Homo sapiens: one gene and its partners. The protein of the gene in region 3 interacts with the protein of the main gene of each other region in a pairwise test. Each region holds a gene or a part of one and is shown on either strand. Other genes may lie near its edges.

Evidence for each region.
Region 1: the proteins of NDUFAB1 (region 3) and ZNF19 interact in binary tests that used the Homo sapiens proteins (3 or more experiments, as listed by UniProt).
Region 2: the proteins of NDUFAB1 (region 3) and SLIRP interact in binary tests that used the Homo sapiens proteins (3 or more experiments, as listed by UniProt).
Region 4: the proteins of NDUFAB1 (region 3) and KCTD9 interact in binary tests that used the Homo sapiens proteins (3 or more experiments, as listed by UniProt).

The regions. Positions count from the first base shown.
Region 1 is NC_000016.10:71,486,185-71,494,148, forward strand, and holds the start of ZNF19 (zinc finger protein 19), read right to left. Parts: upstream 3,141-7,964; 5' UTR 3,088-3,140; intron 1-3,087. UniProt on the Homo sapiens protein: May be involved in transcriptional regulation.
Region 2 is NC_000014.9:77,702,605-77,711,213, reverse strand, and holds the start of SLIRP (SRA stem-loop-interacting RNA-binding protein, mitochondrial isoform 1 precursor), read right to left. Parts: upstream 3,112-8,609; 5' UTR 3,103-3,111; coding exon 3,006-3,102; intron 660-3,005; exon of another isoform or gene 549-659; intron 377-548; coding exon 318-376; intron 1-317. Other genes in the region: nucleic acid dioxygenase ALKBH1, read left to right, coding at 3,210-3,392, 6,737-6,845. UniProt on the Homo sapiens protein: RNA-binding protein that acts as a nuclear receptor corepressor. Probably acts by binding the SRA RNA, and repressing the SRA-mediated nuclear receptor coactivation. Binds the STR7 loop of SRA RNA.
Region 3 is NC_000016.10:23,579,933-23,586,462, reverse strand, and holds the end of NDUFAB1 (acyl carrier protein, mitochondrial precursor), read left to right. Parts: intron 1-1,039; coding exon 1,040-1,127; intron 1,128-4,087; coding exon 4,088-4,179; 3' UTR 4,180-4,187; intron 4,188-5,289; 3' UTR 5,290-5,449; downstream 5,450-6,530. UniProt on the Homo sapiens protein: Carrier of the growing fatty acid chain in fatty acid biosynthesis.
Region 4 is NC_000008.11:25,426,915-25,434,641, reverse strand, and holds the end of KCTD9 (BTB/POZ domain-containing protein KCTD9), read left to right. Parts: intron 1-1,206; coding exon 1,207-1,312; intron 1,313-1,988; coding exon of another isoform or gene 1,989-2,004; coding exon 2,005-2,138; intron 2,139-4,668; coding exon 4,669-4,785; 3' UTR 4,786-6,795; downstream 6,796-7,727. UniProt on the Homo sapiens protein: Substrate-specific adapter of a BCR (BTB-CUL3-RBX1) E3 ubiquitin-protein ligase complex, which mediates the ubiquitination of target proteins, leading to their degradation by the proteasome.

The DNA of each region.
Region 1 (7,964 bases), about 48 Mb from region 3:
AAAAAAAAAAAAAAATTCCAAAAAGGAACAAAAATTGGCCAGGTGTGGGCACACGCCTGTAGTCCCAGCTACTAGCTGAGTTGGGAGGATCACTTGAGCCTGGGAGGTCAAGGCTGCAGTGAGCCTTGATTGAGCCACTGCACTCCAGCCTGGGCAACAAAGCGAGACCCTGTCAAAAAAAAAAAGATGATTATCTTGGATTATTCAGGTGGGCCCAGTGTAATCATAAGAGTTCTTGAACGTGAAAGAGGGAATTGAAAGAGAATCACAAAAATGACAGCACAAGAAGGACTTGGCCCAACCTCACTGGCTTTGAAGATGGAGGAAGGGGCCAAGGGTCAAGGAAAGTGGGTGGCCTCCAGAAGATGAAAAAGGCAAGGAAACAGATTCTCTCCTTAGTCTAAATCCTGAATTTATACCAGTGGGACCCATTTTGGATTTCTGACCTCCAAAACTCTAAGATAAATTAGTGTTGTTTTACGCCACTACTCATGGCAATTTGTTACAGCAGCAATAGAAAATTAATAGACACACATGTACATACCTCTCTTCTTCCCCCAATTCTAGACAACCACTTTCTTTATAGATTTGCCTATTCTGGATATTTACATTACATAAATGACCATTAAGTCTGGATATAAAACAAAAACAAGTCTCTATTGTTAATTTTATCGGTTTTTAGAAACATGGGAACCCGTATGTTTACTTGGTGAAGAGTTGAGTATATTCTTGGCCAGAAGATGGGAACACTAAAATTAAAAACAAAAAGAGTTGGGAATAACTTATTTTTGTTTTGCAGGGAGTGGAAAGGAAGAAAATTTCCACTCTCATTTGTCTGGAAAGTCTCCCAGAGAGTTTTCAAGATCATTAATAATAATAGCTAATTCACACTGACCTGTCTTCCCAGCCAATGTATCACCTCTAAGGAAATGTATACTTGATATGTTTTGGCTCTGTGTCCCCAGGCAAATCTCATGTTGAATTATGATCTTCAGTGTTGGGGGAGGAACATGGTGGAAGGTGATTGGATCATGGGGGCGGATTTCCCCCTTGCTGTTCTCGTGATAGTGAGTTCTCATGTGATCTGGTTGTTTCGAAGTGTGTTGCGCTTCCTCCTTTGCTGTCTCTCTCCTGCTGGCCATGTGAAGATTGTGCCTGCTTCCCCTTTGCTTTCCACCATGATTGTAAGTATCCTGAGGCCTCCCCAGCCATGCCTCCTGTACAGCCTGTGGAACTGTTAGCCAATTAAACCTCTTTTCTCCATAAATTACCCAGTCTCAGGTATATCTGTATAGCACTGTGACAACGGACTAATACAATACTCATACTCATGTCTGTCACAATCTCTACCATCAAACATAATTACTTTCAAGCTTTGACCATTCCTTAGATTCCAATGGGAACCACCTTTCTTTCTGGTCACCTCACAGCCTAACTATCCAGCTCTCCCTCTAACTCCTACAGTATCTTTAACTGAAGCTATAAGTAATATCAGATCATGATACCCAGAGTATGGTGTATGATCATGGCATATTTACTGTTACTTAATCCTGACTTGAAAATACTAACTTCTCTCCCATATGTCTGAAAATCCCAGCCACAAATAGGCTGAGGCTGTGGTGGAACTTAAGTTTCATGCACAAAGTCATTTTTGCCTTGGCTGCAAAAAAATATGTAGTTAAGCTAAATATTGTGCTGCAGTATCTATACTGACATATAATTCAATATTATTCTCTCCTTGCAGCTGCAAACATACTTAATGATGAAAGACAGAATGTCTTTCCCTCCAAGATTGGGAACATGGCAGGTATGTCTGCTCTTACCACTACTATTTAACATCATATTGGGAGTCTTAGCAAGAGCAAGGCCAGAAAAAGAAATAAAAGGCACATAGGTCAGACACAGTGGCTCACACCTGTAATCCCAGCACTTTGGGAGGCCAAGGTGGATGGATTGCTTGAGGCCAGGAGTTCAAGACCAGCCTGGCCAACATGGAGAAATCGCATCTCTACTAAAAATATAAAAATGAGCCAGGTGTGGTGGTGTGTGCCTGTAATCCCAGCTACTCAGGAGGCTGAGACATGAGAATTGCTTGAACCCGGGAGGTGGAGGATGCAGTAAGCTGAGAATATGCCACTGCACTCCAGCCTGGGTGACAGAACGAGACTATCTCAAAAAAAAAAAAAAAAGAAAAAGAAAAAGAAATGAAATGAAAGACACACAGATTCGAAACTCAGAACAAAACTGTTACTATCTGCAGGCAACATGATTATCTGTATAAGAAGTCCCAAAGAATCTACAAAACAAGCTCCTAAAATTAAAAGTGAGTTCAGACTGGTCACAGTGGCTCACGCCTGTAATCCCAGCACTTTGGGAGGCCGAGACAGGCGGATCGCCTGAGGTCAGGAGTTTGAGACCCGTCTGACCAACATGGTGAAACCCCGTCTCTACTAAAAATACAAAAATTAGCCGGGTGTGGTGGCAGGCACCTGTAATCCCAGCTACTCGGGAGGCTGAGGCAGGAGAATCACTTGAACTCGGGAGGCGGAGGTTGCAGTGAGTAGAGATGGTGCCATTGCACTCCAGCCTGGGTGACAAGAGCGAGACTTCGTCTCAAAAAAACCAAAACAAACTAACAAAAACATAAAAACACTATGGGACAATGGCATTTGTTTGGACACAGGTCTCCAAATCTGCCTCTTCAAAAGAAACAGACACTGCAACTGCAAGAGCCTTGGTTAAAGACTTAAGCCGGCCCCAACTAAGAGTGGGGATGGCTTCCCTAGGAGGTAGGAATCAGCTGGAGTCCTTGCCTCTCCTGGTGCCCAGGCAGTGCCATCTGCAGACACTTCTGTCATCCTCCCATCCTTGGGGGGCTCTTTCTCCAGCTCCAGTTCGTGAGCGGCAAAGCTTGCAGCTGTACAGCCTCCAAGAGCAAACAGCCCAGGTCCCACCCGGCCACAATTGTATAGTGACGCCCTCCCCGTCCCCTTCTTTGAGCTGCGCTCAAAGGACCAGCCTGGACTGCTATGCTGTCTCACTCCCAACCCAAGCTCCGCCCAACTGTGGGTCCTTGCACTTTGGCACCTTTGAGCGCGGACTCAAAACAGGCCAGAAGCGCACCGCTAGCGAGAACGGTTAGGAGGCCGGAAGTGCGTCACGCTTGTGGGGCGCTTGGAGGCCAGAAGTGCGTCATGAGCACGGCTGCTCTTTCTACGGTGCAACTTTTCCGCATCTCGGTGTTTCCGATTGGGAGACATCCTCTTCCTTTCCTTGTACACACTTTTTTCTCTCCTCAGGAACCTCACGCCTGGGTCATTGTCCATTTGGGTGGGTCAAGAAAGCGATCGCTTCTGCCCGGGAGCAGTTGATTGTCAGGAAGGAATTCGTGATAAAACCGCCATCACCACAGGCCTAGATGGTGGCCGGTGTTTCCTGGTTGCTTACTGGTCTTTCTGAGTTCTGGTTCACTCGCAGTGAATCAACTTCCTTTCACAAGCTCTGCCACTCACGGGCCATTGAGGAAGACCCTTGTGTCTCTGAGCAGCTTTTGTCTTCTGTAAAATGAGCCAGTCAGATTATACCATTCAAGCTGTCTTTAATTCCATGCACTGTAACCTCCAATGGTTTGCCACTACCCCTGGAGTCCAAGTCACCATTCAAGGCTCCTCAGACCCTTGCCCTCCTTCCCCTCTAAATGATAAAGAAAATGCCAAAAGCGCAGGGCATATGGGCTAAGAGAGATAGCTCTAAAGTGTTAGTGCCTGTGGCTTTCTGGGTCCACAAAAGAGAACTCTGGCCAGGATTTTGCTGGACTGTCAAAACGTTTGTGATCACTGTCACAGAATTACAAAACAAACTGGGGACTTAGAGCTTCTTAGTCCCATCTCCTTTACAACAGTATGACATAGTGGTAAGGAGCACAGCCTGGCATCAGGATGCTTTGTTTCAAAGGCCAAAGGACCACTCTGTGACCTTTGGTGCATTACTTAACCTGTAAGTGTCACATTTATTTCTAAAACTAGGATAATAATAGTATTTATTCCCCGGATTGTTGTGAGGATTAGATGTTAGTACATGTAAATCAGTACAATGTCTAGCACATACTAAACACTCACTAGATATTAGTAATTATTACACTCACTAGATATTAGCGATTATTAATAGCTTAGGAATTGAGCCTGAATAGGCTCTGGAGTTAATCCAGTATTCAATCTTTTTATTAAAACCTTTGAAAATGGTTATAAACCTCAGTGGGTTTGGGCATCTGTACACTTTTTACTACCAGACTAGATAGTATAAGCAAAGCCTGGTGGCAGTTCAGGGTTGGTTCTTAGAAGATCAGAGTGCTAAAATAGCTAGCTCATCATGAGCTGAGGACTTCCAGGATGACTAGTTGGACTTGCTGTTCAGTTGGGACTTCAGCAACACAAGTCCAGACAAATGGGACCATGATCCAGGTCTTCAAGAGCAACCCTCAGGCTTTCTGCAGAGTGTAAACTCCTCAAGAAAGAGGCTTTTCTATCTTGTCCATGACTGTATCCTGAGTTTCTAGAATAGTGTTTATAACACAGTTCATGATCAATAATCATTTTTTGATGAATAAAGAGTTGGACATATATGATTATACTCCCTTACTATAAGGGAGAGTGGGACAGATAATACAAGCACTCAACGCAGAATGAATCATGAGTAAGAGAAAACCAAGACTCAAAGAGTTTCAGTAAGGCCACAGCATATAATAGGTATCAGAGTTAAGATTTAAACCCTAGATTATTTCCACCATGTCAAACTGGCTTTCCAGAACAATATACTAAGTGGTATTCCAAGTCCCAATACGCCTTTCTATGCTCTCACACCGTGGACACAAGCTTTCTGACCTCAGTCCCTTCAGGAAGAGAGAGAGAGAAGAGCAACAGTAACTGTAAGAGGAAAAATCATCAAATTCTGAAATAAGGGCCAAAGAACCATATAAGATGACACGAGTCCCATTTTACAGATGAGGAAACTGAACACAGAAAGATTAAATAACGTGCTCAAAGTCATGCACAGCTCTTATGTGGCAGAGCCAGAATTCAAACCATGATAGTTTGGCCTCAGTATACACACATAAGCACTCTATCACTGCCTCAGATACGTAGTTCTGTGTCTCATAGTGAAGAAGTTGAAATATGTTAAGCCAAACTAATGTTTCCAAGCCTCCATTTATTAACTGTGATTTGGGGCAAGTTACCTAGATTCTCTGTGCCTTCAATTTTCTCACCTATAAAATGGGTACAATATTAATACCTACTTTGTAGGCTGTTGAGAGGATTAAACAACATGTGAAAATCATTTATTTTCATATCTAACTTATTGTAAACATTCGCTACATTTCTAATTAATTGATTGTTTCATTTTTATTTAGTTTTTTTTTTCTTTAGAGTAGGGGTCTCTCCATGTTGCCCAGGCTGGATTTGCACTTCTGAGCTCAAGTGATTCTCCCCAATCAGCCTCTCAAATAGCTGGGTATATAGGCATGTGCCACTGTGCCCAGATAAGGTATAATTTAAGTTCAGTAAAGAGTACAAATCTTAAGTGTAAAACTTGATGAATATTTATATATGTAACTTCAACCTGATCAAGATATAGAATGTCCCCAGCACCCCAAAAACCTCTCTGTTATACCCCTTCCTAGTTGATAGCCTCCCCAAAATAATCACTATTCTGACCTCCATCACCTTAGCTTTACCTGTTTTTAAACTTTATATAAATGGAATCATATTGTAATAGAACCATGCAGCTCATTTCTTTAATCTAACATAATATCTTTGAGATTCATCTATTGGATATAACTATAGTTCATTCATTTTTATCATTGTTTAATGGTTCATTGTTAAATAAACCACATTTTTTTACCCAAAAAAATCTACTGTGATGGACATTTAGTTTTTTTTTTACTTTTTGGCTCTTATGAATAACCTTGAAGATTATTTATGAATAACTGCAATAAACATTTTCACACGTCTGGTGAACATAAGCTCTTATCTTTCTTAAACATACTTAAGAGTGAATTTGCTGAGTCATTGGATATCATACATTTCGCCTCAGTCAATAACTGCCACCAGACCAGGTGGTATAAGCAAAAAGATAACACAACTTTATTACTATTAATAATTTTTTCTTTTTTAATGTTTTAGAGATGGGGCCTTGCTATGTTGCCCAGGCTGGTCTTGAACTCCTGGGCTCAAGAGATCCTCTGCCTCAGCCTCCCAAAGTGCTGGGATTACAGGCATGAGCCACCATGCCCAGCTAATAACAATTCTTAATATCCTTTAATACCCAGCCATAATCCATTTTCCCTGATTGTCTCAAAAATGTCTTTTTACAGGTGGTTTATTCTAATCATGACCTAAACAAGGTCCTTACGCTGCATTTAACAATATGTCTCTGAAGTCTCCGTGTAAAATGCAGTTTTTCAGTGTGCTTGTACCAATTTCCTGTTTAGTAGCAGCATATGAGAGTACACTTGTTCTACATCACACTCAATAAATGTGAACCATTATGAGAATTGTAACTCTAATTATTTGGTGAATCAGAGGAGGAAGGCTAAAATTATACTGGGTTTTGCCTGGGGTAACTGAGTAGGTGGTGAGGTTTCAGGGGGAGAGGCGGACAAGCAATAATGAGTTTTTGGTGTCTGCATGGAAATACATCTAGTTGGACATGTCATCTGAAGCCCAGGGGAAAGTGCAGGGCAGAGGTAGTGATATGGGTGGATAAAGATGTAAGACCAGATGGGATCACAATGAGCCAACAGAGAATTTGTAACCAAACAGCCTAGCCTGAAAATGCATTTTAAAACCTTTTTTCTTTTTTCTGTTTTTTCCCTAGTCTCAAGATATAACCTTGAAGCTTACTGCATATATCATTGTTTTCTTCTCCTTAGTCTTAAAGTACAGCCTTGAAATTTACTTTCTTTGAAACACCACGTCCCTCCCTTTCTTACCATACACTTCCTTACACCATGCACATTTTTATCTAACTATATGCTGGTATCTAATTATGTGATTACTTAGAAATTCCAGGGGCTAATCTTGAAACAGACCAAGCATAGGGACCCAGCTGCAAAATTCCAGAAATTCAAGGCAGTTAGAAAATAACCTGGCCATTGTTGAGATGATGCCAGCCCACACTCTAAGTGGACCACAGCTCAAGATAGCCACTGGAACAAGACACGTAGACCTTGTACTCAGTACCCCTCTCACATGCCTCCCATTCCAAGTTCCCTTTTTTAAGCCCTTCTCCTCAGCCTAAAATTTGAAGTGGTTACCTTGGATGTGAATCCAGCCACTTCCCCACTGCAAGTTTTGGTAAAGAATAATGTCACTTTCTTTCTATCATAGCTCGCTCTTGTTATTGGATTCTGCAAGCAGCAAGCGGCCAGACCTGCCTTCGGTTACAAGTTCAAAGGCCCAGATGGTTCATTTAAATAGAATAGGGGCCTAAGTTTCTGTATTTTTCACATGTCCCCTGGATGATTATGACACACATTAATGTTTGAGCACCACTGATGAAAGCAGTGGGTTAAGGAAGGAACCCTAGAAAGCAATGACATTTTAGGAGGAAACCTCTCATGACATAGGTTCAAATTAAGAGAGGATGTGGAATCTTGGAAGATACAGAAGTAGGGTTTTATGGAATGGGAGTTCAACTGTGTCAAACCAGCAGGGTTTTGTTTTGTTTTTTGAGACAGAGTCTCGCTGTGTCGCCCATGACGGAGTGCAGTGGCGCAATCTCGGCTCACTGCAAGCTCCGCCTCCCAGGTTCATGCCATCCTCCTGCCTCAGCCTCCCGAGTAGCTGGGACTACAGGCACCCGCCAGCACGCCCGGCTAATTTTTTGTATTTTTAGTAGAGATGGGGTTTCACTGTGTTAGCCAGGATGGTCTCGATCTCCTGACCTTGTGATCCGCCTGCCTCAGC
Region 2 (8,609 bases), on a different chromosome or scaffold from region 3:
TATATATAAATATGTATATTTATTATGGAGTACATGAGATGTTTTGATATAGGCATGCAATGTAAATTAAGCACATCATGGAGCATGGGGTATCTATCCCCTCAAGCATTTATCCTTTGACTTATGGGGTATCCATCCCCTCAGGCATTTATCCTTTGAGTTACAAATAATCCAATTACACTCTGAGTTATTTTAAAATGTACAATTATTATTGACCATAGTCACCCTGTTGTACTATCAAATAGGTCTTATTCATTCTATTTTTTTTGTACCCATTAGCCATCCCCACCTCCCACCTACTTTTCCTTAATACTTACAAAAGGTAAAATGCACCTTCTGACATGGCCGAACTGTGCAAAGTGTTCTTTCAGCTGACCTGTGTGGCAGAAGAAAACATTAAAAGTAGTTACTATATTTTGGATTCTCTATCTTAGACTGTAGAAAGACAGGGTCACCAGATTTCTTGTGGACAGGAACTACTTTGCATTTCCTTAAAGGCTTAAGATTTAGGAAGCAGCTATGGTACTGACTATAAAGCCATAATGTACCAGACTTGGTGGTGAGATGGACAGAGAAGTTGTTGAGTTGGCTGCAGTCTCCATCCTCAGCAAATATCGAGTGTTTTCATACCAGTTACTGTGCTATGTGGACTATGATCCCTGTGAGCAGATCACAATGAAGAAAAAGACAAATTACAATCCAGTGTGTTTCCCGGTATACTGAAGATTTCCAAATAAAATCCCAACTTACTGGTCTTTCACAATTTAGTAAAATGTGTTGAGTTGCCCTCACCTACCCTTCCTGCCTTATTTCCCACTGCTAGCCCCTAGTTACTCTCTAGTACAACTAATTGAATTATCTTTATCTGTCCTGCGGGTTACCCTCTTTGCATATGTTGTTCTCTCCCCTCCATATGTTGGTAATCCTATCTCCCCCTGGCTAACTTGTAACACTATAACTATCCTTCAAGACCCAAACCAAGTACATCCACTGAGTATTACTTTATTGGGCTCCTATCACAGTACAAGACAATGTACCAGCCCTGTGAGACTTCAAAGATTTAGAGTATATAATCTTAAAGACTAAAAACTACACGATCTGTTTCTCTTCTGAACTACAGTGCTTGTACTTCACTGATTTACTTTTTATAATATCTATTTAGTTCTCCTAGTTCACCAAAACCTCACTGGTTCAACAATTGCCTATATTTGTTCTAAGTCTCTTCATCCCCACCACTAATTGTAAGCTCCCTCAGCATATAAACCACTATGTTTACAGTGACCAATAAACAGCAGGGCCTCAATATTGGCTAAATGAATAAGTAAAAGTCCACTAATCCTTCCAACAATCCACAGAGACTAAATTTTGAAGGGCTCTAATGGTTAAGTCAAACCAACTGGCAAGATCAAGGTCTCACAGAATATGATACTGGAGAACAAAATAATGTTAAACATATGTTTTATACCAGATAATTAAAGTCCTAGAAGACACTGATTTCAAAACAAACCAGCTCTGGAAGGTAACCCTCTTCCTAAATTGCCTAAAATGGTGAAGGAAAAACAGCTGCAAGCACCAAGAACAATGCCTACCACAGAATAGATACTCAAATAAATATTTGCTGAATCAATGGAACAACAAAGAGAAACTGTTTCGAAGCTGTACATAATGCTGACTCTTTTTAAGGGTTTTAAACTAGCCCTTTATTGTCTGGAAACTTGCATCCGCAAGATGCTAATGAAACTCCTCAGCCTTTCCATAAAGTTTCACAGGGACTACGGGAGACTTTACTGGGCTTGGTCTTCACCAACCACATGTTTAAAACACGGGGCACAAACCAACCTATTTCCCATTCTACTACTCACATCTGAGCCACTAAAAACTTAGAAGAAACTAAATCTTGCTCCATTTTGTTTCCAGGGGTTGACCTGAAACATGAATATCTACAAAAAGAGTGACCACGAATGTTTACATGTTGGTAAGCAAATATAAAAACCTCATCTCAAAACTGCAGCTGACAAAAATTGAAGGTGGTGAAAGATTTCAGAACTAATTATTCCAACCTTTATCTGTAGACTAGGCCTCTCCCGTAAGTTTCAATTTTAGTTACCGTGAAAATAACTATCATTTGCTGAGTACTTACACTGTATCTAACACAAGTCTAAGAAGTTTGCATATAAACTCAATCCTCTCAACAATCCTATGAGTTGGGTATTATTGACTCCATTTTATCGATGAGTAAACTGAGGCCCAGTTGTGAGCCCTTTTCCCATACTAACTTCAGTTATTCAAGTGATAACAACGATTAAATGGCCAAGTTGGAATTCTAACCCCAACGGTCTAGCTTCGGAGTCCACTTCTCAGCCACAATGATATACAACCTTTGTCCAATTGCCTGACGGAAACCTCACAAGTTTCTCAAAGTCAACACATTCAAACTTTACTCATCTTCTCTTGGCCTGCTCCTAACTTCTAAACAAACAATTCACCAATGCTAAAAACCCAGAAATCATTTCTCCCTTTCCTTTATTCCGTACACTTCTCCCACTTAAGCCATCACGAAACGGCATCTAATTTGCTTTTAAAACATTAATGCATCTGACCACCATCCTTCTACCATCGCCCTAATTCAGGTCCTCACGTTTTAAGTAAATTAATGAAATTGCCTTTTAGCTCCTCTGCACGCCTACAATCTTGCCACCTTGAATCCATCCTCCACACTACAGTCAAAATTATCCCTTCTAAATTGTAAATCTTGGTTACCAAGTAATAAATCTTTACACCAAATCACTCCTAAAGGCAAGAGCCGGTGCATTCGTGACCCCAAAAGCTCAAGGGACATCCCTAAACGGTTAACTGCAAACAAAATTTCTTTCTGCTCACTTGCATGCTCAGGAGCAGTCTCCTAATTCAGCCACCACGCTGACTTAAGTACCCTGCAAAAAGCAGAAGCTTTGAGGATCACTTGGACCTAAAAATTCCACTACTCCCACATCTCCATCACTCACTCGACGCCGCAGTCCAAGGAATTCTTCTCACAAAAGCAACCGGCTGATTGATACTTCTACGCAGCGCCGCAGCACCTCTCGCTGCTGAGGCCGCCATCTTCAGACTAAAGCACCTTCTCGAGCCGAGGTCGCGGCCCCGGAAAAAATTTCCGGATCCGGAACACGAGAGAATCTGCTTCCGGATCAGAGGGTATAGGCCGCGAGATGGGGAAGATGGCAGCGGCCGTGGGCTCTGTGGCGACTCTGGCGACTGAGCCCGGGGAGGACGCCTTTCGGAAACTTTTCCGCTTCTACCGTCAGAGCCGGCCCGGGACCGCAGACCTGGAAGGGGTCATCGACTTCTCGGCGGCCCACGCAGCCCGTGGCAAGGGTCCTGGTGCCCAAAAGGTACAGAGAGAGGAGTGGCGCGCGTCTCTCCATCGCTTTGCCCCGCGTCTTGGAGGGACTTACGTGTCTTCTTCGCCTCTTTTCACCTCCAGACCGATTGTTATTGAACGATTCCTGACCTCCTTTGGCTGCAGAGTCGAACTCCCCACTAACCGTCACACTTAGCAATAAAGCGTTGAGATGCCTGTTTCTTTAGGCGGCCATTCCTGGCGGGGGCGCTCAGTCAAAAGAGCCTGGGAATCCGTGTTTATTTCTTACTGTAACTGTCTCCTCACATTTCTGTTTGGGTTTTTGTAAAACCCCATAGAACGTCTTTGTAGACGGTAGGGTAGACTTCTGCAGCTTAAAAAAAACCACTCCCGAGGAATCCCAGAACTGACAGGGATGCGGCGCTGTTTGTTAAGCCACTGTGCGTAAAACTAGTCCCTGTCTTCTCCTCTGGCTCTTTTAGAAGGAGGTCATTGAAGGATTCTGAGAATCCCTCCGTGTTGAAAATAAATGGCAAACAAGTATATATGGAATACAGGCACCGTTCTCTCTCTCAGCTTTTCCCCATGGAGATTAAGAAGGGGAACACAGTCCGGGAGCGGTGGCTCAAGCCTGTAATCCCGCACTTCGGAGGCCGAGGCGGGTGGATCGCTTGAACCCAGGGGTTCGAGACCAGCCTGGGGCATGGCAAGACCCCCGTTTCCGCCAAAAATACAAAAAATTAGCCAGTCTCATAACCTGTTCTCAAGTAAATAGATTTTTTAAAAATTATTTTTTTAAGGGAACATAACAGGCAAGAGGGAAAACGGGGAACCAAAACTGTAGTCCAATTTATATTTTCTTTCTTTACAATCCACTTTAACGTTGAGGATATGCAGTCCCTTAATTTGCTCTTGGTGTTGTCCACAGATGTCTAGATGAGGCATTCTTTCCAAGCTTCCTAACAGCTCTGATAAAATTGGGATGCTACAGTATTAAGTGTTAATGATTGCATACTTGAGCTCAGCTTTTCAGCACCTTCATTTGTTAGGGAAAAAAAGTGGTCTTAGAGTTGTCAAAATACAGAAAGTCCACACCCCAATAATAATATACTTTTTCTCTCCAGAGCGCTTCAGACTCTCATTCAGCTCCTTTTACCTACATTTTACCATAATATGTACATGCTTTTTAGAATGTCAGCCATCAGGGAATGAGCCATTATGTGTCTAGTACAGGACCTAAAACAGTACTAAGTACAGTATGTGTTGAGTACATGAAAGCTTGGGTGTTTAGTTCCTCAGCTCAAAGCAGATTAAAGTAGTAATTAAGAGAAGTTACTATTACAAGCCAGCTGATGAGACTGGTGGGGAAAGTGGTGGTTAACAGTCTGGCAAGGGAGGAAAGAGAAAACCTTTTATAAAAGCTCAGTGGTGTCGTTCAGTTTAGCATATGATAGAATAGGTCCACTAACATCACCTCTGAGAGTGTGTTGAATTATAGTGCAGTATTAAGTATGGCCTATTAAAGAAATCATGACAAAATGCTTAAAAGTGTTTTACCAGTGCCTAGGTACCTGGAAAACTCAGCTGATAGTACTGTCAGAGGGTTTCATATAGCCCTTTTATTATAGAGACTGGTTATACATCAGCAAACTTTTGGTATTTTGTCCAGGAATCTCCACACTTGGAGAAGTTGATAAGATAAAAGATCATTCTCTTTCAAAGAGAATGTTTCATATATATATATATGTGTGTGTGTATATATGTGTGTGTATATATAATATATATACTTTTTTTTACTGAGACAGCGTCTCACTGTGTCACCCAGGCTGAAGTGCAGTGGCGTGATCTTGGCTCACTGCAACCTCCATCTCCTAGGTTCAAATGATTCTTCTGCTTCAGCCTCCCAAGTAGCTGGGACTACAGGCACGCGCCACCATGCCTGGCTAATTTTTGTATTTTTAGTAGAGACGGGGTTTCGCCATGTTGGCCAGTCTGGACCCAAACTCCTGACCTCAGGTGATCTACCTGCCTTGGCTTCCCAAAGTGTTGGAATTACAGGTGTGAGCCACCGCTCGGCCTGTTTCATATATTTTAAGGCAAGGCAGACCCTAGGTTTACTATTCAGGGAAGAATAAAGGTTTTTTCCTTTAATGTTTTGACTTCAATGACTGCATAGTGGGTCTCTTAACCAATGTAATGAGCCATCCATTAGATACTCACATACAAAGAAAACTTCAGCCCCTGAAATACTAAATTCATTTCTAAGTAATTAACAGAAGCAGAAGTTGTAGCGTCAGTTGGACATTTCATCTAGAAGAGGGCAAACAGGATTTTTTAGCTTTTACTTTTAGCAGACAGGATTCCCAGTGTCTCACTGCAACATTTTTTCTGTCTGTTTACAGCACTCTCTTTTCATTCTCTTTTTTTTTTTTTTTTTTTTTCTTAGACGGAGTCTTGCTCTGTTCCTAGGCTGGAGTACAGTGGCACAATCTCAGCTCACTGCAACTTTCACCTCCCAGGTTGAAGCAATTCTGGTGCCCCAGCCTCTCGTAGCTGGGATTTCAGGCGCCCGCCACTACACCCAACTAATTTTTGTATTTTTAGTAGAGACGGGGTTTCACCATGTTGGCCAGGTTGGTCTCGGACTCCTGACCTCGTGATCCGCCTGCCTCAGCCTCCCAAAGTGCTGGGATTACAGGCGTGAGCCACTGCGACCGGCCTTCTCTTTTCATTTTCTCACCCTGTCCAGCTTGGTGTTCCTTATAGCTCTGTTTAAATACCAACTCTATACAAGTGTCTCAAAAGCATTACTGTTAGCCCTAACTGAAGTAAATAGCTTTGTGACTCAAGATATTTCAGTACACCAAGCACCTTTCATGATTCAGCCCCATAAGAAGTTGGAAAGGTATGATGTCATAGGAAAAAGTAGTTTTGAAAGCCAAAATTAGCCTGCTTAAGTTTTCTTATTACCATTTTGCCTTAATTTTGGGTGACTCTACTGTTACTATATAGATGAGAAACTGAGGCTCTAAGACATTAAATGACTCATCTAAAATGCCCAGATCAAGTAAGCAGTACAGCTAAGATTAACCCCAGAGTTAATACTCCTTGCTTTGGCCAGGCACAGTGGCATATACCTCTAATCCCATTGCTTTGGGAGGCCAACACAGGAGGATCACTTGAGTTCAGGAGCTTGAGGCTGCAGTGAACTATGATCATGCCTCTGCACTCGCCTGAGCAATAGAGCAAGGTTCTGTATCTTAAACAAGAATCCTAGCTTTGCCTCATACAAGAAATGTGTTTGGAGGTTTGAGGTTCCCGGGGTTGACCTGCAAAATAGATTTAGTCCTTTAACTTCTGTTTCCTTCCTGCCAGGTGATCAAATCTCAGCTAAATGTGTCTTCTGTCAGTGAGCAGAATGCATATAGAGCAGGTCTTCAGCCCGTCAGCAAGTGGCAAGCCTATGGACTCAAAGGCTATCCTGGTGAGTGTAACTGACCTCAGAGAAGGCAATATCACTCAATCATTTATGTCTTCATGTCTTCAAAGAAGGTACTGTGTGTGAGCAAGTAAATAGACAAAGGATACACATAATAAACAGATAAATGTTTCATTTCCAAACCCATTCTAGACTGTACCTTGTCTAAGACGTCCGTTTTGAAAGGATAGAACAGGAGTCAGCAGTGCCTGCAAATGTGGCTGAAAGTGGCATGACCATTGAAAAAATAAGGACATTGCCTCTGGGCTCCCTGCCACAACTCTGAACATCTGATTTGGCAGAAGTGCTGTGAAGAATAATTTATCATTATCATTGTAATAAATGTCATAATAGTTATGAATAATTCATAATTGTCCCTCTAGTCACATTCTCAAATGGCATAACAACTTAAAACTTGTTGCTATCAAGGCTGAACATATTTAATAAAGAATTACAATTAATGACATCAAAAGTCCTCGCCAGGCGTGGTGGCTCATGCCTGTAATCCCAGAACTTTGAGATGCCAAGGTGGGTGGATCACCTGAGGTCAGGAGGTCAAGACGAGCCTGGCCAACATGGTGAAATCCCGTCTCTACTAAAAATACAAAAATTAGCTGGGCATGGTGGTGCGTGCCTGTAATCCCAGCTACTTGGGAGGCTGAGACAGGAGAATCGCTTGAACCCAGGAGGTGGAGGTTTCAGTGAGCCAAGATCGCGCCATTGCACTCCAGCCTAGGCAATAAGGGGGAAACTCTGTCTCAAAAAAAAAAAAAAAAAAAAAGCTGGACGCAGTAGCTCACGCCTGTAATCCCAACACTTTGGGAGGCCGAGGCGGGCGGATCACGAGGTCAGGAGATTGAGACCATCCTGGCTAACAAGGTGAAACCCCATCTCTACTGAAAATACAAAAACAAAATTAGCCGGGCATGGTGGCGGGCCCCTGTAGTCCCAGCTACTCGGCAGGCTGAGGTGGGAGAATGGCATGATCCCGGGAGGCAGAGCTTGTTGAGCCGAGATTGTGCCACTGCACTCCAGCCTGGGCAATAGAGCAAGACTCCATCTCAAAAAAAAAAAAAAGAAAGTCCTAATAGGGACCAGGCGAGGTGTCTCACACCTATAATCCCAACACTTTAGAAGGCCAAGGTGGGAGGATCATTTGAGCCCAGGAATTTGCGACCAGCCCGGGTAACATAGTAAGACCCTGTCTCTACAAAACAAAATTTTTTTTTCCCAGACAGTCTCACTCTGTCGCCCAGGCTGGAGTACAGTGGCACAATCTCAGCTCACTGCAACCTCCGCCTGCCAGGTTCAAGTGATTCTTCTGCCTCCCGAGTAGCTGAGACTACAGGTATATGCCACCACGCCCAGCTAATTTTTGTATTTTTAGTAGAGACAGGGTTTCATGTTGGCCAAGCTGGTTTCGAACTCCTGACATCAAGTGATCCACCCGCCTCGGTCTCCCAGAGTGCTAGGATTACAGGCGTGAGACACCTCACCTGGCCAAAAAAAATGTTTTTAATTAGCCAAGTGTGGTGGCATGCCTCTGTAGTCTCAGCTACTCAGGAGACTGAGGTAGGAGGATTGCTTGGGGTGCAGTGAGCCGAGATCGTGCCACTGCACTCCAGCCTGGGTGACAAAATGAGACCCATCTCATTTTGCAGAATAGATTCGTCTGCAATTTTAAATTTAGTAATGTTAGGTAGCTGCTTTTACAGAGAATGAAATTAAGAAAATAATGAAGAATAGGTAATGTTATTAACCTTTTTTCTA
Region 3 (6,530 bases):
CTCGGGAGGATGAGGCAGAGAATTGCTTGAACCCGGGAGGGAGAGGGTGCAGTGAGCCGAGATCATGCCACTGCACACTGCAGCCTGGATGACAGGGTGAAACTCCATCTAACAACGAAAAAAAATTGAATCTGTTGTGTAGGTAAGGCAGTTTTTTTTTTGATTTGGGTTTTTGAAGAATCATTCCTGGTGATCCTGAGGTCTAAATTAGAGTGATAGGGTGATAGTAAACACTTTGGCCAGGCGCAGTGGCTCACGCCTGTAATCCCAGCACTTTGGGAGGCCAAGGTGGGTGGATCACGAGGTCAGGGGTTCGAGACCAGCCTGACTAACATGGTGAAACCCCGTCTCTACTAAAAATACAAAAATTAGCTGGGCGTGGTGGTGCACGCCTATAATCCCAGCTACTCGGGAGTCTGAGGGGTGAGAATTGCTTGAACCCGGGAGGCCGAGTTTGCAGTGAGCCGAGATCGTGCCATTGCACTCCAGCCTGGGTGACAGAGCAAGACTTTCTCAAAAAACCAAAAAACAGACAACATTAGAGTGAAATCCTTCATTAGCTATGTATATATTGTTCACTTCAAAACAGAGTAAGATAAAGCAAACCATGTACATACTAGCATAGGTTACATATAAAATGTCAGTTATAGCCTCTGTATGTTAAAAAAAATTCGATGTAGTCACAAGGACAGAAAACCAAACACTGTGTGTTCTCGCTCATAGGTGGGAACTGAACAATGAGGTCACTTGGACAGAGGGTGGGGAGCATCATTTACCAGGGCCTGTCAAGGGGTAGGGGGTTTGGGGAGGGACAGCATTAGGAGAAATACCTAATGTAAATGATGAGTTGATGGGTGCAGCAAACCAACATGGCACATGTATACCTATGTAACAAACCTGCACGTTGTGCACATGTACCCTAAAACTTAAAGTATAATAAATTCAATATAGTGATTAAGTGGCATTGTACCACCCTGTTATCTTGGGAAGCAGATGCTTTCATGGACTAAATTTTGTGTTTGGTGCTCCTTTCTTGCAGCTTTCAGTAAATTCTCATTTTATGAAAGACCTGGGCTTAGACAGTTTGGACCAAGTGGAGATTATCATGGCCATGGAAGACGAATTTGGTAAGGCTCAGTCTTCTATCTACACACTGCGATTTTTGATTAAGGTGGATTAAACTGAAAGAAGTGGTGGGCGTCTGAATTGGAATTAGAATTAAATATTAATAGAAACAGTAGCATCCACTGCCCTTCACACACACCTTCCTGCCCACTTACCATCAGGTGAAGTAAGCTTTAGGGATGGTACATTTATTCAGAGAGCACCTTGCACAAGCCCAGCAGAGTGCCCAGTGTGGTGCCAAGAGCCGAATGACCAGAGATGGTTCCAGGGGACTGATTCTTCAGACAGGGTTCTAAGACAAAGGGCAAAAGCCTCCCCGGAACACATGCTGATGACATGTCAGCCCCTCCTGAGCTCGGGTAACGCGAACCAGGTAGAAGTAATGTGTGCCAGGACAAGAGACGCACCCAGAGCCTCTGGCCTTGGTCTCCTATCCTGGCTCACAAGCACACTCCAAGTTTGGGACTGTGTGTTGGGCAGGTGAGACCTTTATAAGGTTCCATGGCTGTTTCTGCGTGAGTTGGCTGAATAGGAAATCAAAGGACTTCTGTGCTGTTCTGCAGAGCAGGGCCTAGTTAAAATTCCTCACAGATGATGCTGACTAGGATGGAATCCCTTTGCCTAGTGCTTAAGAGTACCAGGTCTGGAATTGAGCTTAGTCAGGTATGAGCCTGGACAAGTAACTGTATCTCTCAAAGCCTGTTTCCTCAGCTGTAAAGTGGGGGTGATAATAGTAGGAACCCCAGGATTGGAATTGCTGTGAGAATTAGAGATGATGTGTAAAATGCTCAGCACAGTGTTTGGGCCAAAGTAAGCTAACTACCAAAACCCAGCCATTTATAAAAACCCAACCATCATAAAAAAAAAAATGCATGGGTGACGTGTGTTACAGCACACGAACCTTGAGAACGTGCCGAGTGAAAGAAGCCAGACACAGAAGATGACACGTTATATACCATTTACATGAAATGTCAAGAAGAGGCAAATCCAGAGATAGAAAGTACACGGGTGGTTGCCAGAGCTAGGGAGGATGGGGAGTGACTGCTGACGGGCACTGGGTTTCTTTTTTTTTTTTTTTTTTTAATTGATCATTCTTGGGTGTTTCTCGCAGAGGGGGATTTGGCAGGGTCATAGGACAATAGTGGAGGGAAGGTCAGCAGGTAAACAAGTGAACAAAGGTCTCTGGTTTTCCTAGGCAGAGGACCCTGGGGCCTTCCGCAGTGTTTGTGTCCCTGGGTACTTGAGATTAGGGAGTGGTGATGACTCTTAACAAGCATGCTGCCTTCAAGTATCTGTTTAACAAAGCACATCTTGCACCACCCTTAATCCATTTAACCCTGAGTGGACACAGCACATGTTTCAGAGAGCACCGGGTTGGGGGTAAGGTCATAGATCAACAGCATCCCAAGGCAGAAGAATTTTTCTTAGTACAGAACAAAATGGAGTCTCCTATGTCTACTTCTTTCTACACAGACACAGCAACAATCTGATTTCTCTATCTTTTCCCCACATTTCCCCCTTTTCTATTCGAAACAACCGCCATCGTCATCATGGCCCGTTCTCAATGAGCTGTTGGGTACACCTCCCTGACGGGGCGGCTGCCGGGCGGAGACGCTCCTCACTTCCCAGACGGGGCGGCTGCCGGGCAGAGGGGCTCCTCACTTCTCAGACGGGGCGGCTGCCGGGCGGAGGGGCTCCTCACTTCTCAGACGGGGCGGCTGCCGGGCGGAGGGGCTCCTCACTTCTCAGAGGGGGCAGCCGGGCAGAGACGCTCCTCACCTCCCAGATGGGGTCGCGGCCGGGCAGAGGCGCTCCTCACATCCCAGACGGGGCAGTGGGGCAGAGGCGCTCCCCACATCTCAGACGATGGGTGGCCGGGCAGAGACGCTCCTCACTTCCTAGACGGGATGGTGGCCGGGAAGAGGCGCTCCTCACTTCCCAGACTGGGCAGCCGGGCAGAGGCGCTCCCCACATCTCAGACGATGGGTGGCCGGGCAGAGACGCTCCTCACTTCCTAGACAGGATGGCGGCCGGGAAGGGGCGCTCCTCACTTCCCAGACTGGGCAGCCGGGCAGAGGGGCTCCTCACATCCCAGACGATGGGCGGCCAGGCAGAGGCTGCAATCTCGGCACTTTGGGAGGCCAAGGCAGGCAGCTGGGAGGTGGAGGTTGTAGCTAGCCGAGATCACGCCACTGCACTCCAGCCTGGGCAACATTGTGCACTGAGTGAACGAGACTCCATCTGCAATCCCGGCACCTCGGGAGGCCGAGGCTGGCAGATCACTCGCGGTTAGGAGCTGGAGACCAGCCCAGCCAACACAGCGAAACCCTGTCTCCACCAAAAAAATACGAAAACCAGTCAGGCGTGGCGGCGCGTGCCTGCAATCGCAGGCACTGGGCAGGCCGAGGCAGGAGAATCAGGCAGGGAGGTTGCAGTGAGCAGAGATGGCGGCAGTACAGTCCAGCTTCGGCTCGGCATCAGAGGGAGACCATGGAAAGAGAGGGAGAGGGAGAGGGAGAGGGAGACCGTGGGAAGAGGGAGAGGGAGAGGGAGACCTTGGGGAGAGGGAGAGGGAGAGGGAGACCGTGGGAAGAGGGAGAGGGAGAGGGAGACCGTGGGGAGAGGGAGAGGGAGCTGGGTTTCTTTTACACAATGGTGATGGTTGCACAATGTGAATATACTAAAAACTACCAAATTATATGGTATATACAAGGAGGAATTTTCTATTATGTGAATTCTATCTCAACAAACAAACAAACAAACAAACAAACATACCTCCAAAGCATCGTACCCAACCTGTATGCATACTGTCTAGAAGCTAACTGGCCCACAACCTATATGGGATTCAAGGTTGCTGAAAGTTTTGATATACTTGTAGCTGTTGTAGAAGGGTCAGGTGTGTTCAGTTCTAAAGGATTTTTTTTTTTTAACTCTCTCACATTGTTGTATATTTTTCTTTTAGGGTTTGAAATTCCTGATATAGATGCTGAAAAGTTAATGTGTCCACAAGAAATTGTAGATTACATTGCAGATAAGAAGGATGTATATGAATAAAGTATCAGGTAAATAGACTTAAAAAATGATGTTCACCCATAGATTTGTCTGTGGTTCTTCAATAAAGGAAACTTAAGAAGAAACAGAAAATGGAAATGCTTGACCAAGATTTTTCACTACTTATAAAATGCAAGCCCTTTCCTGTTGTCTGCCACTCAAAGGGGCCCAGCCCTGGTGGTGATCTTTGAGAGGTTGAGAACTGTCATTCCTGGATAGAACTCCCTTGATTGTCAGCTGTCCTCACAAAAGCAGAACATTGTACAAAGTACTGAACAGGGTAACCTGGAAACAGACCTCTGTCTCCCTCAATTACTCAGCCAAGGTAAGCCCAGCCTGCTGGGTAAGACACTGAAGTGACCTGGCTCTTAAGTAGGCAAGAGAGGCCTCATGTATAAGAGGATGGACTTTGGAGTCAGAGACACCCAAGTTTATTCTCAGCTTTGCCACACACTATAAGCCTGGTGGTCTCAGGCAGGCTGCTTAGCTCTGTAAGCCTCAGTTTCCTCATATGTAATATGGTGGTAATGATAGGACCTACCTGGGGCTTTTGTGAAAGCAAAATTGAAGAGAGTATATATATCACTTGATATAATGATGTAAAGAAGCCTCTCAGTAAATAGTAGCTTTTGTTACTTGGGACCTAGAATAATCAAATAAGACTTTTTGAATTAAAACATTGTATTAGTGTTTTTAGTCTTTAGCTTTTAGTGACCCTGCATTTTTTTTTTTTTTTTTTTAAAGATGGAACCTTGCTCTGTTGCCCAGGCTGGAGTGTAGTGGCACAATCTCGGCTCACTGCAACCTCCGCCTCCTGGGTTCAAGCAATTCTCCGGCCTCAGCCTCCTGAGTAACTGGGATTACAGGCGTGCACCTCCACGCCCAGCTAATTTTTATATTTTTAGTAGAGATGGGGTTTCACCATGTTGGCCAGGCTGGTCTCGAACTCCTGACCTCAGGTGATCCGCCCAGCTTGGCCTCCCAAAGTGCTGAGATTACGGGCATGAGCCACTGCACTCAGCCAGAGGCTGCATTTTTAGCACCTGAAAGATGTCACTTATCATTAGTAAGAATACATCAAAAATAACATTGAACTTATTTTGTCTTTTCCAGACCCTTTGGCTTTGCTGAGAGAGGACTCAGATGATAGTGACGAATGTCTGGCAGTGAGGACACATTTTGGCATTCTTGCTGACTCTGACAGAGTGATTCTGATGGACTTGTATTTAAATTGTATGTGTTTTACTCTTTGAAAATAAATCTATAAAACCAACATTTTCCCCCATCTTCAGTTTTTCAATGATGTCTATAAAGTGCTTTTTTATGTTTGTATACTGACATTGCTTAATATTTTTAAAGGTCTGATTTGTCATTTGTATTCATGCATGTCAAAAACAATGGCTTCCCCAGCCATGTACTTGAAGTAAGGCTGTCTCCCCACCTTCGTATCAGGAGTGAATATATTCATGGAAATGGACTTTTTGCTTCAAAAAAAACTTTGTTTTGGTTTCCATTAGCTTATTATCAGATGTGTCAGCTGATATCAGCAGGTGGGACTAGTTTTTCATCACTGTCCTAAAGATCCCTTTTAATACAGTTTAACAGTTTTGGAGAATGGGAGGCTCTCTTTCCTCCTGGAAGGTCAGTTTGACATTGCCACACATCAAACCACAGTTTGATTTGTCACACATCATTATTGGTTCTGCCCCTTTTACTCTTAGCACTGTGTTGGTTCCTTGGGGTTGATGTAAATAACATGTATGCATTGCTTAGCTCTTGAAGAGTTTAGTTTGAGAGTTACATCAAAATAATTCCTCTCCTTTTACTGACTTTCTAGTATGGGGAAGGAAGAGGAACCAAAGGCCTACAGTAAGTAGTGTCTTTGAGGCAGAGGGACTAAGGTGAGGGGCCCTCAGCCAGCAGAGAATCTCATGGCTGAGAGATGAGGTGGTCGAAGGATGGGAGTCAGCTCTGGGATTGGGTCCACACTCACATCTGCTTCCCTTCCTGCAGGTACCAATACGCTGGTTCCTTCTGGGTTGCTCTAGAGTTATTCCAGGCATGTTAGGCAGACATAGTCCTTTTTTTTTTTTTTTTTTTTTTAACTTTTATTTAGGTTCAGGGGTACATGTACATGTTTGTTATATAGGTAAATTATGTGTCATGGGGTTTGGTGTGCAGATTATTTCATCACCCAGGTAATAAGCATAATACCCCATGGGTTTTTTTATTTGAGAAGGAGTTTCGCTCTTGTCGCCCAGACTGGAGTGCAGTGGCACAATCTTGGCTCACTGCAACCTCCGTCTCCCAGGTTCAAGCGATTCTCCTGCCTCAGCCTCCCAAGTAGCTGACGT
Region 4 (7,727 bases), on a different chromosome or scaffold from region 3:
TGTATCAGGGCGAGTAACAAAATCTACCAAATATGCATTTTAGTTACTTTCACTGTCCTTTATTCTGTCTTATCATGAAGGGTCAGGTTAGTAGCAAAACAGGAAAAAGACTAACATCAAAAAAACGTTTGAAGGACCTAATCTTTAAATAGTGAAATGTCGAGAGGCATCTTTGTTTGTGTTAAGGACAAAAAAAAAAAGATGTTTGTCAAAAACGCTTTGAGATAAATGAACATAATTTAAAACTCTTGGCTGCGTGTGGTGGATCATGCCTGTAAACCCAGCACTTTGGGGAGCAGAGGCAGGCAGATCACTTGAGGTCAAGACCATCTTAGCCAACATGGCGAAACCCCGTCTCTACTAAAAATACAAAAATTAGCCAGGCGTGGTGGTGCATGCCTGTAATTCAAGCTACTCAGGAGGCTGAGGCACGAGAATCACTTGAACTTGGGAGGCAGAGATTGCAGTGAGCTGAGACAGCACCACTGCACTCCATCCTGGGTGACGGAGTGAGACTTTGTCTCAAACAAAACAAAACAAAAAAATAAAGTCTTAAAACATATATTTTCTACCATTTTACTCTCTGCCCTGCATTATGCATTGTGATGTGCCTGCTCAGGGTTAATAATGTTTAGCCATGGTTGGTGCAGAAAGACCCAGCCAGCATCTTGTTAGTGTTTTCTAGCTAAATAATGCCTTTAAATGCTGGCTTTTGTATTCTGACCTCTGACTTGAGGGCAGTAGTAGCATCTTAGAATATCAAGAATTTCACTTAGAACATCAAGATTCCTACAGTAATAAGAAAATCCATACCCCTAACAAGTCTATGCCTTCCTTACCCATACATTTTGACTGTTTCATTGTCATGCATAGGTATGTTTATAAAAATAGAGATAGAGGTGTCAGAGTTCTGACTCACCCAACTTCTTTATCTAAACCGTTATGTTTCATGTAAAATGAGCATGCTATTGTTAATTTGCATTTATTTTTTAAAAAACAGTTCTTTAAAAAAATTTTTCTTTCAAATGTTCCCAGTTCTTACTGTATTTAATTAGAAAAGCCTTTATTGTAAACAGAAAATAAAATTGAGTATGAGTGTTTTGAGTTGAGCCTTTCCCTCTTTTCTATTTTTTTTCTTTTACTGTTTGAGCTAATTTGAACAAAATTATGAACCTTACAACCAGGACTTTTCTCTTTTCTTTGCAGTGTGCGAATCTCCAGGGAGTCAAGATGCTCTGTTCTAATGCAGAAGGAGCATCCCTGAAACTGTGTAATTTTGAGGATCCTTCTGGTCTTAAAGCCAATTTAGAAGGTGAGATCCTTTCTGTAAATACCTATTCTACGAAGGAAGCAGACTGTAAAGGAAAAAAGCCCTGGAAAATAATTGTTAAGGGTGAAACAGGATAGCTGTAGGGGATAGGTTTCTTCTGTCATCATATTTGGAGAACTTCCAAAGTGGTAAGAAACCTCCATTTGGTTTCAGTCAAATGCTAATCAAAATTGAGGACTCAGAAAAAATAAAACCTCAAATATTTAATAAGGTTTTAGTTGGAAAATTAAATATCAACATCTTAAACTTTCAAATGGAATAAAATATTCTTACACTGACCAAAAGGAAAAATTTCATTTGCATAAAGCCAGGGAGTTTTTAAAAATCATTTTTAGATTTAATGTATTGTTTCTTAATTTGTTACTATCTGTGACTGATCACTTTGTTTACTTGTATATTTAGGAGACTACTTCACTCCCTTATCATAAACCTGTAGAGGCATATTATGAAAGTGCTAACTATCATAAGACAGAACTAAATTTCTTCCCTCAAAAGTATTGTGAAAGCATTCTTTCATCAGTAAACTGTTTATATATATAAGTTCGTTGAGAGACAAGATTTTAGATTAATTTCCAAAAGTTAAAAGAGGCCTCCATTAAGTCATCTTGCAGTTCTGTTGAAGGTAGATAACTATATTTTTAAGTTAAACTACTCCCAGAATGTGTTCACTGTAGGTGCTAATCTGAAAGGTGTGGATATGGAAGGAAGTCAGATGACAGGAATTAACCTGAGAGTGGCTACCTTAAAAAATGCAAAGTTGAAGAACTGTAACCTCAGAGGAGCAACTCTGGCAGGAACTGATTTAGAGGTGAGTTCACCAACACTTTAAGAATTTTTATTACTCTAGACTTACTAAGCATCTCATGCAAAATTTATTGAAATCAAAACAAAGTAGTTGGCTGGTAAAACTGGATTGGAAGACTCATCTGACATTCAGTCTAAGTTGATTTCATTTCTCTCCTTTTCCTTGAGTTTTTCTCAAGTAAATAAGTTTGATAGATGTGTTATCTAATGTATTGCATTTTCCATAAAATTTAATTCCGAATAGAATTAAATGGGCTAGATTACTTCTTAAACTACTTGAGAAATTTAAATGATATCCAGGTTTGAAATCAGGTTCAGGAAAAGTCTATTTGAAATTGGAACCATATGTTTTTTGGTTTTCAGCTTGAGATTATAATTTTGCCTGGTCATCTTTTTCAAAGAATTATATTTGTATGTCTTCTTAATTTGCCAGTTTAGCTAGCAGACTTGATAGCTGTTGATAGGTCTATATCAGCACTATCCAATAGCACTTTGTGCAGGAGGGACATGTTCTATATCTGTGCTGTTCAGTATAGTAGCTACCACCCATATATAGCTATTGAGCGCTTGAGATTTGGCTAGTGCAAATGAGAAATTGATTTTTAAATTTTATTTAATTTTAATTCATTTAAATTTAAGTAGCCACATGTGGCTGGTAGCTATGAAATCTGGTATAAATTGGATAGCAGAGAACGGTATGTCAAAATTTAGCTTGCTGTTAATGTTTTTTCATAATATTTTTGCCTAGATATCTTGATAGCTCTCGGTAGCAGAGTAGCAGGCCCCTTTCAACTTCAAGGCAAAAAGAATTGGCCTAAGTATAATCCTATCACGAGCACAATTATTTATTGTTTGTTACATTACTTTCACCTAAGATTATATTTTTTTCCTTGGTTTTAGTACTGTGTACTCAGTGTGGCCTAGCAGCAAAAGCCTCCCTCTCTCTGATTGCAAAGACTGATCAGGTTGACTATTGAGGGGAGAGCTGCTGACATTTGTTCTCCTAACAGGTTACGTTTAGTCACCCTTCTCTCTAACCATTGTCCCCTATCATATCCAGGGACTTAAGTGGAATCTCTATCTTATTGCTCCGTGATCTCAAGACAAATTAAGAAATAGCTTCAAATTGCGGTGGTTACACTGTTCTGTACATCTGTCAAACTCACTGTATTATATACGTACCTTTGGGGCTTTAAAAAGAAGGGCAGTTCCTTGCTATAAAAATACTAGGGCTAGGGAATGGAAAAATCTATTACACAATTTGATTAAGTAAAATCTTTTCAGATTAAAAAAAAAGTCTTCCCCCCATCTCATTCCTTTTGTTGTTGTTGTTCTTGGATCATAGTAAAATTGTTTTGATAATATTTATTACTTTGGGGCCAGGCGCAGTGGCTCATGCCTGTAACCCCAGCATTTTGGGAGGCCAAGGTGGGCGAATCACTTGAGGTTAGGAGTTTGAGACCAGCCTGGCCAACATGGTGAAACCCCGTCTCTACTAAAAATAGAAAAAATTAGCCAGGCGTGGTGGTGAGTGCCTGTAACCCCAGCTACTCTGGAAGCTGAGGCAGGAGAATAGCTCGAATCCTGGAGGTGGAGGTTGCAGTGAGCCGAGATTGCACTCCAGCCTGGGCAACAAGAGCAAAACTCCGTTTCAAAAAAAAAATTGTGTGTGTGTGTGTGTGTGTGTGTGTGTGTGTGTATTTATTATGTTGGAATCCATTCTGTATTTTAAATCAGTGGTCCCCAACCTTTTTGGCACCAGGGACTGGTTTTGTGGAAGAAAATATTTTCACAGATCAGAGTCGGGGGCTGGTTTTGGGATGATTCAAGCGCGTTACATTTATTGTGCACTTTATTTCTACTAGTATTACATTGTAATACATAATGAAATAATTATATAACTCACCATAATGTAGAATCAGTGGGAGCCCTGAGTTTGTTTTCTTGCAACTAGACAGTCCCATCTGGGGGTGTTGGAGACAGTGACAGATCATCAGGCATTAGATTCTCATGAGGAGTACCCCACCTAGATCCCTCACATGTGCAGTTCACAATAGGGTTCACGCTCCTGTGCGAATCTAATGCCCCTGCTGATCTGACAGGAGGTGGAGCTCAGGCTGTAACTTGAGCCATACAGGGACTGGCTGTAAATACAGATGAAGCTTCATCTACTGGTGACCTCCTGCTGTGTGGCCTGATTCTTAACAGGCCATGGACCAGTATCAGTCTGTGGCCCAGGGGTTGGGGACCCCTGTTTTCAATGTCTCCTTATAAAATATGCAAGAACAAGGGACATGCTTCCTCTTTAACCTTTGTTTATACATATTTATGGTGATCAGCCTGAACTAGAGGTAACAAATAAAGATAGAAGAACATCTTAATTTAGGGTGGTGTATCATCAGTTTTCCGGAAATTAACTGAGTTTTATTGTATAAGAACATTTTCCTAATCTGCCCCAGAAATCATTTTGAGCAGAAATAGATAAGGCCTGAAATTTCCACATGAATTACATGAATATTGTTTTCATCTTGCAGAATTGTGATCTGTCTGGGTGTGATCTTCAAGAAGCCAACCTGAGAGGGTCCAACGTGAAGGGAGCTATATTTGAAGAGATGCTGACACCACTACACATGTCACAAAGTGTCAGATGAGAATTTTAGGGGCTGGAGGAAGATGTAAAAGATGAAAATGTTTTCCTTATCACTTTTCTTTCTCCACCCACTCAGTTGTCTAGAAGAAATAACACTGTAAGGAAATTTAAAAAAAAAACATTTAGAGGATTATGCTTGTTTTGAGTGGTGCATAAGGGAAAAAACTGACTTTTTTTCCATATTCTGATTTTTAACAGAAAAGCACTCATTTAATAGATGTAGGGAAACTAGATATTGCTGCCTTTTGAATGGGGTAGGGGGGTTTACCTGGTTTTATGACCAGGCATAGTATCTATTATATTTGCTTTTAAATAGGCATGATGTGGAAATACCATCTTGGTTTGAGATGCATTTGAGGATTTTAATTTATGGAAAGCACAACATATGCAATTATATTTATTGAATTCCTAGATGCAGTATGGATATTTAAATTGTTAAAACTTTATGAAAACTTGGAAAAGGTTGTTCAGGTTTATAAATAGCTTTAGTGATGCCTCCCCTCTTTAAATACCTGTCACACCGTATGAATATGGTGAGATCAGACTCCCTAAGACTCTTTTCAGGTTCATTTTTATAATGTTTACTTTTTAGGACAGAACAGTAGCTAAATTAAAGTAATATCCAGTTCTTACTGATTGAGACAGAGTGGAAAGAAAGACATCATTGTACATCACTGTCATTCCAAAGGTACAGTGTAACTCTGGATGGAGGAATAACTTACCTATCACTACAACACTTACAAATGAGAATTTCTCAGAATTTCATTCTAGGCAAGTTCCACTCAACACCAGATCAAGCAATTCTATCTATTTACACTATTAGCCTAGTTTTCTCATACAGTCATCACAAGCATAGGAAGATACTTCAAAACCAAAAAAACCAAGGTGCATCATTAATATTCATTTAATTCAAATACCAAATAGTTTACATAGGGCCAGCTTAGAAATAGATACTAAATCCAGAGCTACTGCAATCAAAGCTTATATGAGTGAATATGGTAGAGTTGCCTGCTAAAAGGCAATGTAATATAATTGCAGCTAGAACCCTACAGTGGGGAATGAGGAATTTTAAACACACATTTGATTACAGCCACCAAAAAAATAGACGTAAAAATAAAGGCATTTGGCTGGTCCAAGATGTAATTATCAATCAGTCAGCACCTGTGATTCTTTTACTTATTTTTTTGTGGTTTTTTTTTTTTAAACAAATTTTAGCCCAATTTTCTTGAGTCATTCTCTCTCTGCAGCAGCAGAGGAAGGGCCTGTACCTCCCTACCAATGACTTGGTGTCCTTATTTTCTACCCCAAGAGCAGGGATATTAGCTGTGTCCAAATGGGTTCTGAATTCTACAGACTCATCAACATGAGGCAAGGAATCATTGAAAACCACCTGTGTCTCCTTTGGGAGAATGACATATCTTTAGTATTTACGTAGCTTATTCTTCTATATCTACATATGCAAAGCTTTCCTTAACAGTAAAGGGTACATATGCATAGTGGGAGGAGATCAGACCTTTACAAGTGAAGGAAAGCAACTTCAGAAATGAATTATTTTCTTTGCTTTATTATTTTTACCAAGACAGAGAAGTATTGTATTGAGAGATAATCTATTTTCATAATCAATATGTGCCTAAATTATATTTAAATCATTTCACTCTGTACTATATTTTCAGGAATTACAGAATGTGGTATTCATTCACTTAAAGGTACCTCTGTAGAAATAACCTAAAACTGCAGAAGGATCTGAAAGATCTAAACATGGTGTGCTTAGAAACTGCAGATTTTAGATCTAATGTATACTGCATTAATAAATGATATAAAGTGTTTGTTGAAAAGGAGTTTCTTCTCTTCCTTTTGAAAATCATCACTTTCTGTATTTTGCTTACATTTCTTCAATATGTGTTGACAACCAGCCCTGTGGTTCTGGGTAGCAAAGGAAATACAGTATAACTTAATTTGTTATGGATTAGTCTTTTTGAAAGTACCATTAAAGTAAATTTATTTCTTTAAACATGATTATTTTTATCATTCTTTTAAAAATACACCATGCTAACAACACAAACCTTATGAATTCTGAACAAAAGAAAAGACTGCCTCCCCAATAATTCGTTTAATTTGTTTGTGTTAAATTCATCACTCTTTAGGTGATGAATATTACCAGTTAGCTTTATTAGACTGGATAAATAGCATGCCCCAAAACATTTTTTGCCTGATAACTAGGATAGAGAATTTTAAGGAGGGAAGAAACCGTTAAAATAGTAAAACTTCCATTAACCCTAGAGATGAAACATGTCTGTACACATAGGTAAAAATACAGCTGTTGGGATGACAGGAAAAAGGTTTTAAATCAAAATTAAACTAGCTGGATTATCTGCATTAATAAAATTTGGTACTCAACTAAGCAATACTATCTATTGTAGTCTAGTTCTTTCAACTATAGTCTCAAGGAAATTCTGGTAGAAAATGTTGTAAATTAATTATTCTTATGAAGGGTTCAATCATAAATCAAGACTTGGAATATTTTCTCCATTTCATTTTATGACTCTTATGTGTACTGTAAATCTGCCCTATGTCAACTTTAAATCATCTTTAATATATGGAAAAAACTTAGAATTGCACTAAGTAAGTCCCCAAGGAAGAATTACCTTTAAAATTAAAAGGTTCATTACTACAAAGAAAAGTGGTTACATTATTTCAGTATAAAGCACCTTATCCAAGGATTAATTCTCTGAAACCCTTTTACAACCTGATTAGACATGTCAGCAGGAGTTAACCTTAAGTGCTTCCTGCTGAGATTTTACATTAGGGCAAGAAAAGATTTTTTTCATCTGTCATTTCAGTGATATTATGAGATCATCGCTGTAATAATTTTGAGGTGTTTTGATGTTGATGAAGCAGTTTTTTCTCTAAAGCCATTCTTTCAAATTTAGAAAAAAATATGAC